2 linked regions of the Homo sapiens genome follow. The gene in region 1 interacts genetically with each later gene. Each region holds a gene or a part of one and is shown in the gene's direction. Other genes may lie near its edges.

Region 1 (7,630 bases):
ACAGCATTGCAAGGTGGGGTGCAGCAGCTCACGCTTATAATCCCAGCACTTTAGGAGGCTGAGGCGGGTGGATCACTTGAGGTCAGGAGTTCAAGACCAGCCTGGGCAACATGGTGAAACCTCGTCTCTACTAAAAATATAGAAATTAGCCACGCGTGGTGGTGCGCGCCTGTAGTCCAAGATACTCAGGAGGCTGAGGCAGGAGAACCTCTTGACCCTAAGAGGCAGAGGTTGCAGTGAGCCAAGATCGTGTCACTGCACTCCAGCCTGGGCAACAGAGCAAGACTCTGTCTCAAAAAGGAAAAAAAGAAAGAATGACATAGCAAAATAAATTTAAAAAATAAAAACGGGAGAGGTAGGGGTTGGGTATTTTCAATTTGTGTGCCAGCCTAAGGGTGAATGTCTGATAACACTCAGAGCTGGTGCAGGGGCTGTGCCTGTCATCCCAGCGTATCCAGAGGCCAAGGCCAGAGGATCGCTTCAGCCTAGGAGGTCAAGGCTGCAGCGAGTCATGATTACACCACTGCAGTCCAGCGAGGTCCTGTCTGTAAAATAAGTAAATGAAAAAGTTTATATATTCAAAGACTCCTCCCAATCAGTAGAAACAGAAAAATCCCGACAGAAAATGGATGAGGGCGGTGGCGTTTGGTACAGACAGAGCGGTGTATGAGAACCGGGGTGCGCCTCCTGGGTTCTCACAGGTGCAGCAGGCACCGCCGGTAACCCCTGGCCTGGCCTGCGCTGAGCCCTGCACCAGCCGTGCTGAGGGAGCCTGGGCCTGGCCCTTCATGTGGGATAGAAACGGCCGTGCCGGTCTCGATGGTGCTTTGGCAGTTTCTCTGGAAATCTGAAACCTGCGGTCTTCAGCCCAGCCCCACCCTGGGCCTGCATGTGGCTGCGTGTCGTAGAGAAACATCTGCCCTGATGGTGACCTGATGTGAGCAGCAGTTTCACAGAGTAAGCCACCCCTGTGCACGAGGTCTGGAAAGGTAAGTGCGACGTCGAGTCCTGAGCACAGAAGCAGGTGGCAGAACTGCATGGCAGGAGGTGGGCTTGGCGGGCCCCTTCCTGACCCCCAAGAGCCAGCTGCCACCAGGAGCGTCCTGGGGTCTGTTTCCAGCCCGGTGGCAGCCGAGCTTCCTGGGCACCCAGCTTTCCCCAGCCTGCTCTGAGCACTGGAGTTGAGGGCACTGAGCAGAGTGGGGCTGAGCCCCTGGCGGTGGAGGGGACACATCAGTGGGTGTTGGCTTGAGGTGGTTTCTGGGAGGCTGCTGGGCCCCGATCTAAAGGGACACACCTGGCTGCACCCACCTCCTGCAGACTTTCTCCGTGGGAGACCAATGCAACAGGCGGGGTGGAGCAGCCACGTGGCAGCCACGAGGGGGAAAGGAAGGTAGACCCTGAGGCTGAGCCGCTGTGGCACCCTGGCCTGTGGACCTGTGGATGACGTGGCCGCCACGTGGTAAAGCGCACATGCTAGCAGCTGTGGCCCTGCAGCTGAGCACAGGCCAACCTGGTACGTGGTGGAGGTCGGGGCATGGGGTGCCCCAGCCATGTTCAGATTCCTGTAGTGAGAATGCTTTCACCTAATACTATGTTGTTAAACCTGTATTCAGTAGGGAAAAGGGCAAGGACCTGAAAAAAGTGTATTAAGAATCGTGCACAGGCAAGTGATGAAAGCCTCGTCGGGGAGGCAGCTTGCGCTTCACAGCTCAGCTGGGTGGGCGCGCCCGGAGCCCAAAGGAGGGCCCTTGGCCGGCGCACGCTTCGGCTTCTCCGAGCTTACCTAGATGAGATAGATTTTCATCACGGAAGAGCCGATGCAGGAAGCAACCTTAAGGCTGCGCGGATGAATATTCGTCATATTCACGTGAATCTGATCGCTGTCTCCTCCGAATGTGCGGGAGGTGACGTGCCGCGGTTCAGAATCGACTTTTCGAGGCCCGTGGCCAGTGCTCCGGGTGAAAGCAGGCTGTTGCCTGCGTACACACAAGCCTGTGTGGTGTGGGTCTGTCCAGCCTGTCCATGCCGAGCCTCTGCACACACACTGTGGAAGTGGCCCCTGCACATCCAGCTGCCCAGGCCAGCCCCCCGGGCTCACGTCTGGCACCAGGCCTGTCCCTGACCCCAGGGCCCATCTCCCACTGCGCCTCTGCCCACCGCTCGCATGCGCAGCCCCTCCTGCCCACAGTGGGTGCCGACGAAGCTTCATCTGCAGGTGACTCTCTCTTAGCTGCGGCTGCTTTGCCAGGCTGCCCGAAGCACCTCCTTGGTGTGTGGGCGCCCATCTCCAGTCCACGCAGCGCAGGGGTCTTCCTGGCCGCACCGCTCGCCTCCACCACAGCTGTGCACCAGTCGCCCACTGCTGGCCTCTGCCTGCCCATGCTGTCCTTGTGGCCTCACCCCGTCCACACTACGTCTGGTCAAGTGTGGTACACCAGGGTTCACCCCGTCCACACTGCATCTGGTGCACCAGGGGTCACCCCGTCCACACTGCGTCTGGTGCACCAGGGGTCTGCATGCATGCAGCCTCAAAGCCCTCCCAGGAGGCCCGGGGCAGCCATCAGCCCTGTCCATGAACTGATGAGTGTTACACACACCTGTTCCTCTGTGGTCCGGGTAGATGCCTCCCTGCCTCCTGCAGCCGAGGTGCTCCAACCTTCCCTTCTTCCTGGAGAATGCCCAGGCTAGCCCAGGGCTCCCCTCCCCTGCTGCCCAGCCTCTGCTGTGGCCCTGGTCTGTGTGGTCCTCCATGGTCCTCTCCTCTAGGTCCCCTGCGGTGGGCAGGAGGGAAGGGAGGCTGTGCCAGCCTCAAAGGGAATCATCTGTTCTGGCTAAGCTGGAGGTCCGGGCACTGTAGGAGAAGGGGTTGCAGCTGGGTGGTGAGCGTCTTCCTGGGGGCTGCCCTCACCCTGCCCACGTATGCCTGCCCAACACCAGCTGCTCTGCCCAGGACCCAGGCAGGGTCAGCTCCCACAGGACGCCCTGCGGTCCAGCAACCCAGGCACTGCCGCCCGGGATCCACAGGCTCCATGCTCGGCAGGAAGGGAGGGAAAGACGCCACCTAGGCCCCGGCAACCTCTGTGCTGAGCCTGCGCCATTGATCCGTCAGGAGTACCTGGGGCCCCGCTGGACAGGTGGTGGGTGGGAGTCATGTCCACATGGGAGGCTCACTGGTGTCTCCGGGGACTCGGACATGCCCATGTGGACGAGGCCTGCATGTCCTGGTGTCCTCAGCCACGGCTGTTCGCACAGAGCATCTCTGCACCCGTGGGTGGGCGTTGTCATGCACGGGAGTGTGGGATGGACGTGTGCGGGTGGATGTGTTTGGGTGTGGGTGGATGCGCAGGTGGTGCACACACATCCCCACCCTGTGCCCAGTGCTGCACCTGGTTCTTCGGCCTAGGGCACTTCCTCCACCTGTGTGCCTCTGCACCCCACACTGCCCCTGCCCTCCCTGGGCTGGGGGTAACTGGGAGCCCTTGGCAGGGTGGGGTTGGCCGTGACCACAGCGATGCCATGTACTGGCTGAGTGGAGGCGCCAGGGTTGGGCTGCTGTGCTGTGTGCCAGGTCTTTGTTCGCGGGAGCTGTTCCGGTCTAAGAGTTGTCATGGACACTGAAATTAAAAACGTGACTGTTGTGAACACTGCTCAGACCCAAGCCTCGCCAGCCAGGGGCAGCATTTCTGGGCAGGTTCTTGGGCGACACGGGGGCAGTGCATGCTCCTGTGGATGTATCCTTACGGCTGGGTGGCGTCTGCCTGCCTCCGCCGACGTGCTTGTGTGCCGCGGGGACTTACCACTTTCTACCTGCATCCCCGGGCCTGCAGGTCTCAGGTTCCCTGGCCACCCCACCCAGCTGCACCTGCTCAGTGTCCTTCCTGGGTGTGGCCGCACCCCCCCTCCTGTGTCCTCGCCAGGCGGGACCCCGTTTCTTCCACAAGGCTGAGCAGAGTCTCGGTGGGGCGCACGCTCAAAAGGAGACATCTCAGCCACCACAGTGGGGAGCGGGCAACTCTGACCAGTGCCGGCCTGCAGCCTACATGCGGCTGAGGAGGCTGCGGTGGGAATTGCTGGGACTCAGGACGCCTGGGCAGAGGTTGAGGGGCCGCGCGTGGCGGGGAAGCCTTCATGTAGCCTCTCCCAGTGTCCGGGCTGGTGCTTGGGGAACAAGCCTGAGGGCCACAGGCTAATTTCCCAGCCGGGGCAGCCCCACCCCCGAAGGCCAAGCCCGAGGGTCTTCAGGTTCCGGGCTGAGCCTGTGTGCTTTCTCGCTGCAGGTCCTGAACGAGGCTGTGGGGGCCCTGATGTACCACACCATCACTCTCACCAGGGAGGACCTGGAGAAGTTCAAAGCCCTCCGCATCATCGTCCGGATTGGCAGTGGTTTTGACAACATCGACATCAAGTCGGCCGGGGATTTAGGTAGGCCGGCTCCGAGTTCTCTCCTGTGCCCATTCATGCAAGCTCCGTCCCGTCTTGCTTCGTCCATGGAGGCTTCACTGCCACACTGAGGACCCCGTTGCACATTGCCTGGTGTGGCTGGCGGTGGTTCGTGGTCCCGTCTGGGGCCGGCATGAGGTTGCAGCCATTCAGTTCCTCACAGAGCCTCATCTCAGGGCACTTCCTCTCTTTTGGGCAGCAGGAAATCCAGCTGTGGCTTCACACAGGTCTGCATGCATGTCTGGCTGGTGCCCCTTGCTTGGGTACTGGGACCCTGGGGGTGAGGGCAGGGCCGTCAGTGTATGGCTGTAATAGGGCTCATAGGTCTCTGTCCCGAGACACAGCGGGAACAGCAGCGTGTTGCAACCCAGTACGTGTGCACTCAGCACACAGAACACACACGTCTGCACCTGTGCACTCAGCACATGGATCACGCACACTCAGCACACAGAACACACACGGAACACGCACATCTGCATCCGTGCATGTGCACTCAGCACATGGAACACGCACACTCATCTGCACCCATGCACATGCAGTTAGCACACGGATCTTGCACACTCATCTGCACCCGTGCACATGCACTCAGCACACGGATCACGCACACTCAGCACACAGAACACGCACATCTGCAGCCATGCATGTGCACTCAGCACATGGAACACGCACACTCATCTGCACCCGTGCACATGCACTCAGCACACGGATCCTGCACACTCATCTGCACCCGTGCACACGCACTCAGCACACGGATCACGCACACTCAGCACACAGAACACACACAGAACACGCACATCTGCAGCCGTGCATGTGCACTCAGCACATGGAACACACACACTCATCTGCACCCGTGCACATGCACTCAGCACACGGATCACGCACACTCATCTGCACCTGTGCACACGCACTCAGCACATGGATCACATGCTCATCACACAGAACACATGCACCTCTGCTTGTGCACTCAGCATATGGAACACTCATGGAACACGCACGTCTGCACCCGTGCACCTACACGCACATGGAACATGCACATGTGTCTGCATCCATGTACAGACACTCATTAGAACAAACTTGGGGCGGTGCTTGGCCGTCCTGCTTGGAGCGCACTTTCTGTTTTCTGCCAGGCTCGGTCTGTTTTTTCTCCTCCTCTCGATGCTGGTAACAGGCGAGGTTGTACCCTGCCCTTGCCCACAGTTGGCCAGCGCCTCACGGTTTTGCTTCCCTTTTCCTAGGATACAGTTTATGGCATTGCAAAGTTGGAACCGTCTGTGTTCCTGCGGGGGACGCAGGTGGTGTCGGAAGCCATGCCTCCATCTGGGGGTCTCCTGCACTGGCTTCAGCTGCTTCCGCCGGCGCCCATGGGCCAAACCTGTGTGCCAGCCTCCTCCCGCCTTTGTCTCTGTGGTGGCGTCCCAGGAAGGGCCGGCTGCGGTGTCGGGTGCAGGCCTGGGTGTGTGGTGTCGGGTGCATGCCTGGTGCTTTTTGAGGGGTCCCTGCTGTTTACCATCTCTGTTACCCGTGGAGTTTCCCAGGCCTGGGCTCTGTTCTTCAGCCAGGGATGGTCTGGGGCACCCCTGGGATCTGGCCCACCCTCAGGAGGTCTTTGTTCCAATCTCGTGTGGCGCCTGGCTTGGCTCTCCCTCAGTCTCCCTTGTTTAACATTTTTACGTCCAAGTGAGTTGTGTCTAGGGGCTATGCAGCCCCTGCCTGCGCCGCCCCACATCAGGCCCTCTCCCGGCCCCCGGGACCCCTTGCGGAACCACACGGTCCTGTCCAGCTTCCGGGCCTATGAATGCAGCCCTGTCCTGGCCTCCTGCCCCCTCCTCCTCCCCAGGGAGACGGATGGCCAGTCGGACACAGGAATGCAATCATCCGGATGGGGTGGGAAGTGCCGTGCAGGGGCGGCCCTGGCCAGGGACAAGCCAGGGATGAGGGTAAATAGGCTCAGGGAGGGGCACTGGCTGGGGAAGGGCCTGTCTCTGGGGACAAGGCCGGGAGCGGGGAGTAGGGGTCACACATGGGCGTGCCTGGCCACTCGGGAGAAATGGGATGGACTTGCTTTCCAGGAATGGCTCCAGCTTCAGTGTTACCGACTGCAGGGGTGGGGCATGGAGGGCGGAAGGGGCTTCGGGGCCCGGCTGGGCCTGGGGGAGGCCTGAGGACATGTGCGGATGTCCACGTAGGGGTGTGCAGGCGGGGCCGGCACCCAGATTCTGACCTGGCCACAGCCTCCCAGCAGGGTACCCCCGAGAGGAATCGGGGTGGCGAGGTGACGCGGGGAGACACGTGCTTGTCTCTTCCTGGGCTGCCAGCGCTGAGTCGGGAGGGGTCAGGGCAGCGTCTCACACCCCAGCCCTACCACACACCGAGCAGTTGCCGTGTGTGTGCTGCCACGTGAACCTAAAGTGGAGGTGGGGCTCCTGGAGTTGCTCTGTTGCGCCCGACCTGTGAGCAACGTGTTCATCTCGTGGCCTCCCGGGGTGGCCTTGGGGACACGGCCTTTGGCTTCTTCCTTGGGAAGCTTCAAACCCGCTCCAGTCACGGCGGCCCCGGTGTCCTCCCGGAGGCTGGGCCCGGCCCGGGGGTGACCGCCGTGTCCTTGTCCCCACAGGCATTGCCGTCTGCAACGTGCCCGCGGCGTCTGTGGAGGAGACGGCCGACTCGACGCTGTGCCACATCCTGAACCTGTACCGGCGGGCCACCTGGCTGCACCAGGCGCTGCGGGAGGGCACACGAGTCCAGAGCGTCGAGCAGATCCGCGAGGTGGCGTCCGGCGCTGCCAGGATCCGCGGGGAGACCTTGGGCATCATCGGACTTGGTGCGTCGGCCGCAGCTCCACGCCTGTGTCCCTCCCTGTGTCTGGCGCTGCCGCTCTTCAGCTGTGCCCAGGAGGAGAGGCCCGGGGCGGGGTGGGGCTGCTGCAGGTGTCGGTCCCAACCCAGGACAGGACTGAGTGCGCACAGGCACCAGGGCCCGGGAGTCCCAGGCGTGTGCCCTACGTGCACGGACGTCACAGCACACGTGGGTCTCACACAGGCACACACAGATAACGTACACGGATGCCACAGCACACACAGCCTCACACAGACATCACAGCACGTGGGTCTCATGGGCACATGCAGATAACACACACGGACGTCACAGCACTCACATGGGCTTCATGGGCACATAGATAACACACGGA
Region 2 (7,630 bases), on another chromosome or scaffold:
GGGTCTGCTCAGTTTGTCACCCAGGTTGGATTGCAGTGGCACAATTCTTCAGCCTTGGTCTCCTGGGCTCAAGTGATCCTCTCATTTCAGTCTCCAGAGTAGCTGGAACTACAGGCATAAGCCACCATGCCCAGCTGATTTTTAAATTTTTTTTAGAGACAGGGTTTCATCATGTTGTCCAGGCTGGTCTTGAATTCCTGGGCTCAAGCAATCTGCCCGCCTCGGCCTCCCAAAAGGCTGGGATTACAGGCGAGATCCACCACACCCAGCCCAGTTGTATTTTAGACTTTAAAAGAAATCAGTATTCAGTATTTACATTCTTTTTAAATTAGAAATAATTTTAAGAGAATCTTTTGCAGAGATGGGGTCTCATCATATTGCCCAGGCTGGCTTCAAACTCCTGTGCTTAAGCGATCCTTCTACTTCAGCTAACAAAGTGCTGGGATTACAGGCATGAGTCACTGTGCTCAGCCCAATATTTACACTCCTATTACTATGTATGCTAATCAGGCCTGAGACAGGCAATACACCATGATCACCTTTCCTTTCTTGTGCAACTTTTTGTTTTCCTAGAACTGGAAAAAAAATGTGTTCAATTTTTTTTTTTTTTTTTTTTTTTTTTTTTTTTTTTTTTTTTTTGAGACGGAGTTTTGCTCTGTCACCAGGCTGGAGTGCAGTGGTGCGATCTCAGCTCACTGCAAGCTCCGCCTCCCGGGTTCAAGTGATTCTCCTGCCTCAGCCTCCTGAGTAGCTGGGACTACAGGTGCGTGCCACCACGCCCAGCTAATTTTTGTATTTTTAGTAGAGACGGGGTTTCACCATGTTGGCCGGGATGGTCTCGATCTCTTGACCTCGTGATCCACCGACCTTGGCCTCCCAAAGTGCTGGGATTACAGGCGTAAGCCACCATCCCAGCCCTGTGTTTGATTATATTTGGTCTGGTTTTCTATCTACTTAACAGTGTGAACCCTAAATCATTCATCAATTGTATCTTTTGTCAAGACGTCAATTCCATTAGATATTTTATCAATTTCTTTTTTTTTTTTTTTTTGAGACATAGTCTTGCTCTGTTGCCCAGGCTGGAGTGCCATGGCGCGATCTCGGCTCACTGCAAGCTCCACCTCCTGGGTTCTCCTGCCTCAGCCTCCCGAGTAGCTGGGACTACAGGTGCCCACCACCACATCCGACTAATTTTTTGTATTTTTTTTTTTTTTTTTGAGATGGAGTCTCACTCTGTTGCCCAGGCTGGAGTGCAGTGGTGCGATCTCGGCTCACTGAAAGCTCCATTTCTCCTGCCTCAGCCTCCCAAGTAGCTGGGACTCACACCATTCTCCTGCCTCGGCCTCCCAAGTAGCTGGGACTATAGGCACCCACCACCACGCCCGGCTAATTTTTTGTATTTTTAGTAGAGGCGGGGTTTCACCGTGTTAGCCAGGATGGTCTCCATCTCCTGACCTCGCGATCCGCCGGCCTCGGCCTCCCAAAGTGCTGGGATTACAGGCGTGAGCCACCACACCTGGCCTCTCATCAATTTCATTTCTTGAAGAAATTTCTTCAGGAGCCCACTGACCTGGTCCAGTTTGCACTAGTAGCCCTCTGCCAGGGGACAGACCTGTCATGCTGGCATCTTCCTTCACCATCATCTTGTAGAATCCTTTTGCCTCTGTCCTGGTTAGAAGTCCTGTTTCCTGTACTTGACTCCTTTTCTTGACTTATTCCTTTGTTTTCATGGAGCAGGTCCTTCAGTAACTGCCTTAGAAAGGTCATGAGAGGCCAGAGACAGTGGCTCACTCCTGTAATCCCAGCACTTTGGGAGGCCTTGAGTCCAGGAGTTTGAGACCAGCCTGGGCAATATACTGATACCTTATCTCTACCAAAAATATAAAAATTAGCTGGCCATGGTGGTGCATGCTTGTAGTACCAGCTACTCGGAAGGCTGAGGCAAGAGAATTGCTTGTACCCAGGAGGCAGAGATTGCAGTCAGCCTAGATCATGCCACTGAACTCCAGCCTGGGCGACAGAGTGAGACTCCATTTAAAAAAATAATTAATTAAATAATAATCTAAAAAAAAACTTTTTTTTTTTTTTGAGATGAAGTGTCACTCTTGTCCCCCAGGCTGGAGTGCAATGGCGTGATCTTGGCTCACTGCAACCTCCGCTTCCCGGGTTCAAGGATTCTCCTGCCTCAGCATCCCAAGTAGCTGGGATTACAGGCACCTCCCATCACACCTGGCTAATTTTTGTATTTTTAGTAGAGACGGGGTTTCACCATGTTGGCCAGGCTGGTCTCAAACTCCTGACCTCAGGTGATCTGCCCGCCTTGGCCTCCCAAAGCGCTGGGATTACAGGCATGAGCCACCGCGCCCAGCATCTAAAAAAAAAATTTAAAATAAGGTCATGGGAAGTATATTTTTTGAGACTTTTGTGTGTCTCACCTTGAGTTGATAGCTTAGCTAGGTATCCCATGCCAGGTTAGAAATCATTATTCTTCAGAATCTTGAAGGCACTTTTCCATTGTCCTTCTTCCAGCATATATCGTTGCCATTTAGAAGGATGAAACCATCTGATTTCTGATCCTCTGATGTAATGTTTTTCTTTCTGAAAGTTTATAGAATTTTTACTTTATCCTCAGTGTGGTGTATTTTCATTCATGGCTCTAGGCACTTAGTATGTCTCTTCATTCTGAAAACATATGTCTTTCAATTCAGTGAAAAAGAATTATTTATTTAATTATTTATTTCTCTCCATTTTCTCTCTTGGGATTTTCTGTTATTGGATTTTGTTGCCCCCTGAATTGGTCCCCTAATTTAATTCCCTTTTCTCTTATATTTTCCATCTCTTTACCTTTTTCCTTTGGTTTCCAAGATATTCCCTCCACTTTATGTTCCAATCCTTCTATTGAGTTTTTCATTTCTGTTCATGTAGTTTTAATTCCCACAAGCTCCTTACTTTAAATTTTTTTTTTAATGAGACAGCATCTCACTATGTTGTCCAGGCTAGTTTCGAACTCCTGGGTTCAAGCAATCCTCCTGCCTCGGCCTCCCAAAGTGCTGGGATTATAGGCGTAAGCCACCCTGTCTGGCCTGTGCAAATGTTTTAAATGCATGTGTGTGTGACTGTGAGTGTGAATATATGTGTATGTGTGTGTGTGAGTTTGTGTGTGAATGTGAGTATATATGTGTTTGACCGTGTGTTTGTGAGTGTGTTTGCATGTGTGACCGTGAGTGTATGTATAGTGTGAATGCATGTGTGTGTTTATGTGTGTCTGTGAATGTGAGTGTATGTGTGTGTGTTTGAGTGTATGTGTGTGTGTGTGCAAGTGAATGCATGTGTGTATGACCGTGAGTGTATGTGTGAGTGTTTAGGTTGTGTATGTGTGTGCAAGTGTTTGGATGTGTGTGTGTGACCGTGAGTGTATGTGTGAGTGAGTGGGTTGCGTGTGCGTGGATGTGGGTCTGTGCCTCTCCCTTCCTGAATCCTCCCCCTCTGCACTTTCTCCACAGTGGAACACACGGGCCAAGCGGGAGAAGCTGACAGAGCTGATGTTCGAGCAGTACAACATTCCTGCCTTCTTCTTATGCAAGACGGCTGTGCTCACCGCGTATCCTCTGGACTGAGCTGCTCTGACTGGGTGGAGGGCTGGGGTGGGGCCTGTGCTGAGCTCAGCTGTGATGAGCTGGAGGGTCAGGCCTGGTTCTCTGAAGATCAGTGTCCCAATGGGCAGACACCTCCCTCTGCCCCACTAGTGCAGAAGGCCCAGTGGACTGAGCACCTCCGACTCTGGGGTGGCCAGATCAGCGGCCCCTTTCGGTTCCCCGGATCAGGCTGAGCAGACAGTGAGCTGGGCCCGGGAGAGAGTAGGGGCTGGAACTGGACAGAGGAGGGAGACGTGTAGAACACTGCGGCAGTCCCTTCCCAAGAACTCCTTCAACACTGACTGTTTTTAGGATCTGCCTTGCATTGAACCCTGTGCTATGCACTGGGGTGATAGCGACCCTAATTTCAGGGAATCTGTAGGACACAACCAAAAATAAAGGGGCTGGCCAGGCGCGGTGGCTCACGCCTGTAATCCCAGCATTTTGGGAGGCCAAGGCGGGCAGATCACTTGAGGTCAGGAGTTAGAGACCAGTCCGGCCAACATGGCAAAAGCCCGTGTCTACTAAAAATGGAAAAATTAGCCAGGCATAGTGGTGGGCACCTGTAGTCCCAGCTACTTGGGAGGCTGAGGCAGGAGAATCTCTTGAACCCAGGAGGCAGAGGTTGCAGTGAGCTATTGCATTCCAGCCTGGGCGACAAAACGAAACTCAGTTTCAAAAAAAAAAAAATAACTAAAGAAGTAACTGGGGTCGCCGGGTGTGGTGGCTCATGCCTGTAATCCCGGCACTTTGGGAGGCCGAGGCGGGCAGATCACGAGGTCAGGAGATCGAGACCATCCTGGCTAACACGGTGAAATCCCATCTCTACTAAAAATACGAAAAATTGGCCGGGCGTGGTGGCAGGCACCTGTAGTCCCAGCTACTCGGGAGGCTGAGGCAGGAGAATGGCATGAACCCGGGAGGCGGAGCTTGCAGTGAGCTGAGATTGCGCCACTGCACTCCAGCCTGGGAGACAGCAAGACTCCATCTCAAAAAAAAAAAAAAAGAAGTAACTGGGGTCTCAGAGCCTTTCTCCAGGAGATGAGTCATCACCAGGGGGAGAGATTTGCAGACTGGGGATGGGCTGGACCCCGGTAGAGCAGAGAGTGACCAGACAAGATCTGGGCCCAGGCCCCTCACTTGCTGCTGCTGTCTCTTTGACTTACCCATCCGATGCCAGCTTTGCAAACGGGCGGTCCACTGGCCTCGTGCTGGACAGTGGAGCCACCCACACCACGGCCATTCCAGTACATGACGGCTACGTTCTGCAGCAAGGTGGGGCTTCGGCAGGGGGTGGGGGTGCTCCAGGAGGACCAGGTCCTGACAGTGCCTTCCTTCTAGGCATCGTCAAGTCCCCTCTGGCAGGGGACTTCATCTCCATGCAGTGCCGGGAGCTGTTCCAGGAGATGGCCATTGACATCATCCCACCTTACATGATCGCAGCCAAGGTGGGGCCTCTGGGGACATGGAGCTGCCACTAGAGTCCTGGCCACTCGCCCCATGGCCGTCAACCCTCTGACACATGAGATATCAGAGCAGAGAGCAGCAGGCTCCCCAGTGGGTCCTGGCTCCAGTTCCTCCTTTTATAATCGAGGCATCCGAAATCCAGACAGGCTGAGGGATATGCTGAGGTCATGAAACCAGCTGGCAGACAGCAGGATGTGTGAGGGCCAGTGTGGTGGGTTCTAGGGTCCAATATAGACCCAGGTTCAAGTTCTGCCTCTGCCGTGCAAGAGCTGCAGGACCGGTCAGGCATGGTGGCTCACACCTGTAATCCCAGCACTTCGGGAGGCTGAGGCAGGCAGATCGCTTTGAGCTCACTTCGAGACCAGCCTGGGCAACATGGTGAAGCCACGTCTCTACTAAAACTGCAAGAACTAGCCAAGCATGGTGGTGCATGCCTGTAGTCCCAGCTACTTGGGAGGCTGAGACTGGAGAATCACCTGAACCCCGGAGGCAGAGGTTGCAGTGAGCCGAGATCGCGCCACTGCACTCCAGCCTGGGCGACCGAGTGAGACTCCATCTGAAAAAAAAAAAAAAAAAGAGCTGTGTGACCAACAGCATGATATCAAAGCTCCCTGGGCCTCAGGTTTGTCTTATGTAAAGTGGAACGGCAGTAGGCAGTAGCCAGGGTGCTGTGAGTATGAAGTGACACTGTGTGCTTAGCTCCATTCCGTGCCCTCACATGGATCATGACCCCCTAGGAGGCCATTCCCTTGAGGTTCTGTCACTGCTGTATTCCTGGTGTTCTCCAGATCAGCTGCACCCACCGCATGAAAGGCACACATGGAGAGAGAGGCATGCCCCATTCTCTCTCCTCTCCATCAGGGAAGGGTGAGAAACCCCTCTTGCAGGCAGCACAGCAGAGCCTGCAGCGCCAGGTAGCTGCAGAGCTGGGAACAGTGCCAGGAAGGTGGGGGTGGGGGTCAGGTGGGCTAGGAAAGGGTGTTCCTACACTGTGCCCCCACAGGAGCCTGTCCGGGAGGGTGCCCCCCCAAACTGGAAGAAGAAGGAGAAGCTACCCCAGGTCTCCAAGTCCTGGCATAACTACATGTGTAATGTGAGCCTCTGGAGAGGGCCACCTGAAACCCCCCTCCCCTGCCATGAATCGGGGGCGGGACAGAGGCCCCGCATGGGAGGGGGAGCAGGGAGGGGGAGCGGGGCAGGGGGTGCTGCTCACGGGGAAGGCAGGCCCTCACCACCTCCGCTGGGATTTCAGGAGGTGATCCAGGACTTCCAGGCCTCCGTGCTGCAGGTCTCAGACTCCCCCTACGATGAACAGTGAGTGTGGCTCAGGGCTTTGGGGTGGGAGAGAGGGCAGAACCGGCACTCTTGGGGTGGGCTGGGGGGCTCTGGTGCTGCCCACGCACTGATCCTTCTTGAGCACCCCAGGCAGAGTCCTGCTCCCTTCTGGGTAGGGTGGCTGCACAAATGCCCACAGTGCACTACGAGATGCCCAATGGCTACAATACAGACTACGGCGCCGAGCGACTCCGCATCCCTGAGGGCCTGTTTGATCCCTCGAACGTCAAGGTTTGGCTGTGTGGCGAGGACTGGGGTGGGTGCTGGCTGCAGTCCCTGGATCCTGGGGCGTGGGGGAGGCTGGGAAGGATTGCAGGGGTCTGGGGGGAAGGGGGAGAGAGCCCACAGCCCCAGTCACCTCTCTCTGCAGGGCCTGTCGGGGAACACCATGTTGGGTGTGGGCCACGTGGTGACCACCAGCATCGGCATGTGTGACATTGATATTCGCCCGGTGAGGCCAGGCCGGAGCTGAGGCTCGGCAAAGGGGCCCAGGGGAAGTGGGGAGACGGGGTTGGGGGGCTGCCCCCGCAGCTCACTCCTTCTCCCTGCTCTCAGGGCCTGTACGGGAGTGTCATTGTCACCGGCGGGAACACACTGCTGCAGGGCTTCACTGACAGGCTCAATCGAGAGCTTTCCCAGAAGACCCCACCGGTAGGAGCCCACCCCTGACCCAGAGCCCTGGACACCCGTCCTGGCTCAGCTGTCCAGGACTGAGTCCCTTCATCCTTCCCATGTCCTTCCTTCTGTTCTGGCCACCAGAGCAGAACCCCTGCCCCTGTGGCTTCCCAAGTCTTCCCCTCTCCCCCAAGCCCTGTCCCTTCCCAGAACCTAGGTGTCTGCTTCCCCCAGCCCCTTTTTACCCCCAGAGCATGCGACTGAAACTCATTGCCAGCAACAGCACCATGGAGCGCAAGTTCAGCCCCTGGATCGGGGGTTCCATCCTGGCCTCACTGGTGAGAGGAAAGGGACCTGGCCTAGCACTGACTGTGGGGGAGAGGGGAGACCCAGACAGTGCCCGCCACTTTGACTGCCTCTTCGTTCATTCATTCATTCAACAAACATTTAGTTTTGAGAAATGTCAGTCAATGAATGTTCCCAGAAGGGTGAACAGGACACAAATCGGGGGGCAGGGGCCCGGTATGGTGGCCCACACCTGTCATCCCAGCACTTTGGGTGGCTGAAGTGGGGGGATG

What was found. A genetic interaction does not mean that the proteins touch.
Region 2: of CTBP1 (region 1) and ACTL6B, changing one enhances a phenotype caused by changing the other (phenotypic enhancement), as found in Homo sapiens cells (one study listed by BioGRID).

The regions. Positions count from the first base shown.
Region 1 is NC_000004.12:1,224,994-1,232,623, reverse strand, and holds part of CTBP1 (C-terminal-binding protein 1), read left to right. Parts: exon of another isoform or gene 1-1,516; intron 1,517-4,280; coding exon 4,281-4,425; intron 4,426-7,057; coding exon 7,058-7,264; intron 7,265-7,630. UniProt on the Homo sapiens protein: Corepressor targeting diverse transcription regulators such as GLIS2 or BCL6. Has dehydrogenase activity. Involved in controlling the equilibrium between tubular and stacked structures in the Golgi complex.
Region 2 is NC_000007.14:100,646,009-100,653,638, reverse strand, and holds part of ACTL6B (actin-like protein 6B), read left to right. Parts: intron 1-3,503; coding exon 3,504-3,601; intron 3,602-4,815; coding exon 4,816-4,910; intron 4,911-4,976; coding exon 4,977-5,083; intron 5,084-6,105; coding exon 6,106-6,195; intron 6,196-6,354; coding exon 6,355-6,416; intron 6,417-6,553; coding exon 6,554-6,668; intron 6,669-6,807; coding exon 6,808-6,888; intron 6,889-6,992; coding exon 6,993-7,088; intron 7,089-7,286; exon of another isoform or gene 7,287-7,303; coding exon 7,304-7,390; intron 7,391-7,630. UniProt on the Homo sapiens protein: Involved in transcriptional activation and repression of select genes by chromatin remodeling (alteration of DNA-nucleosome topology).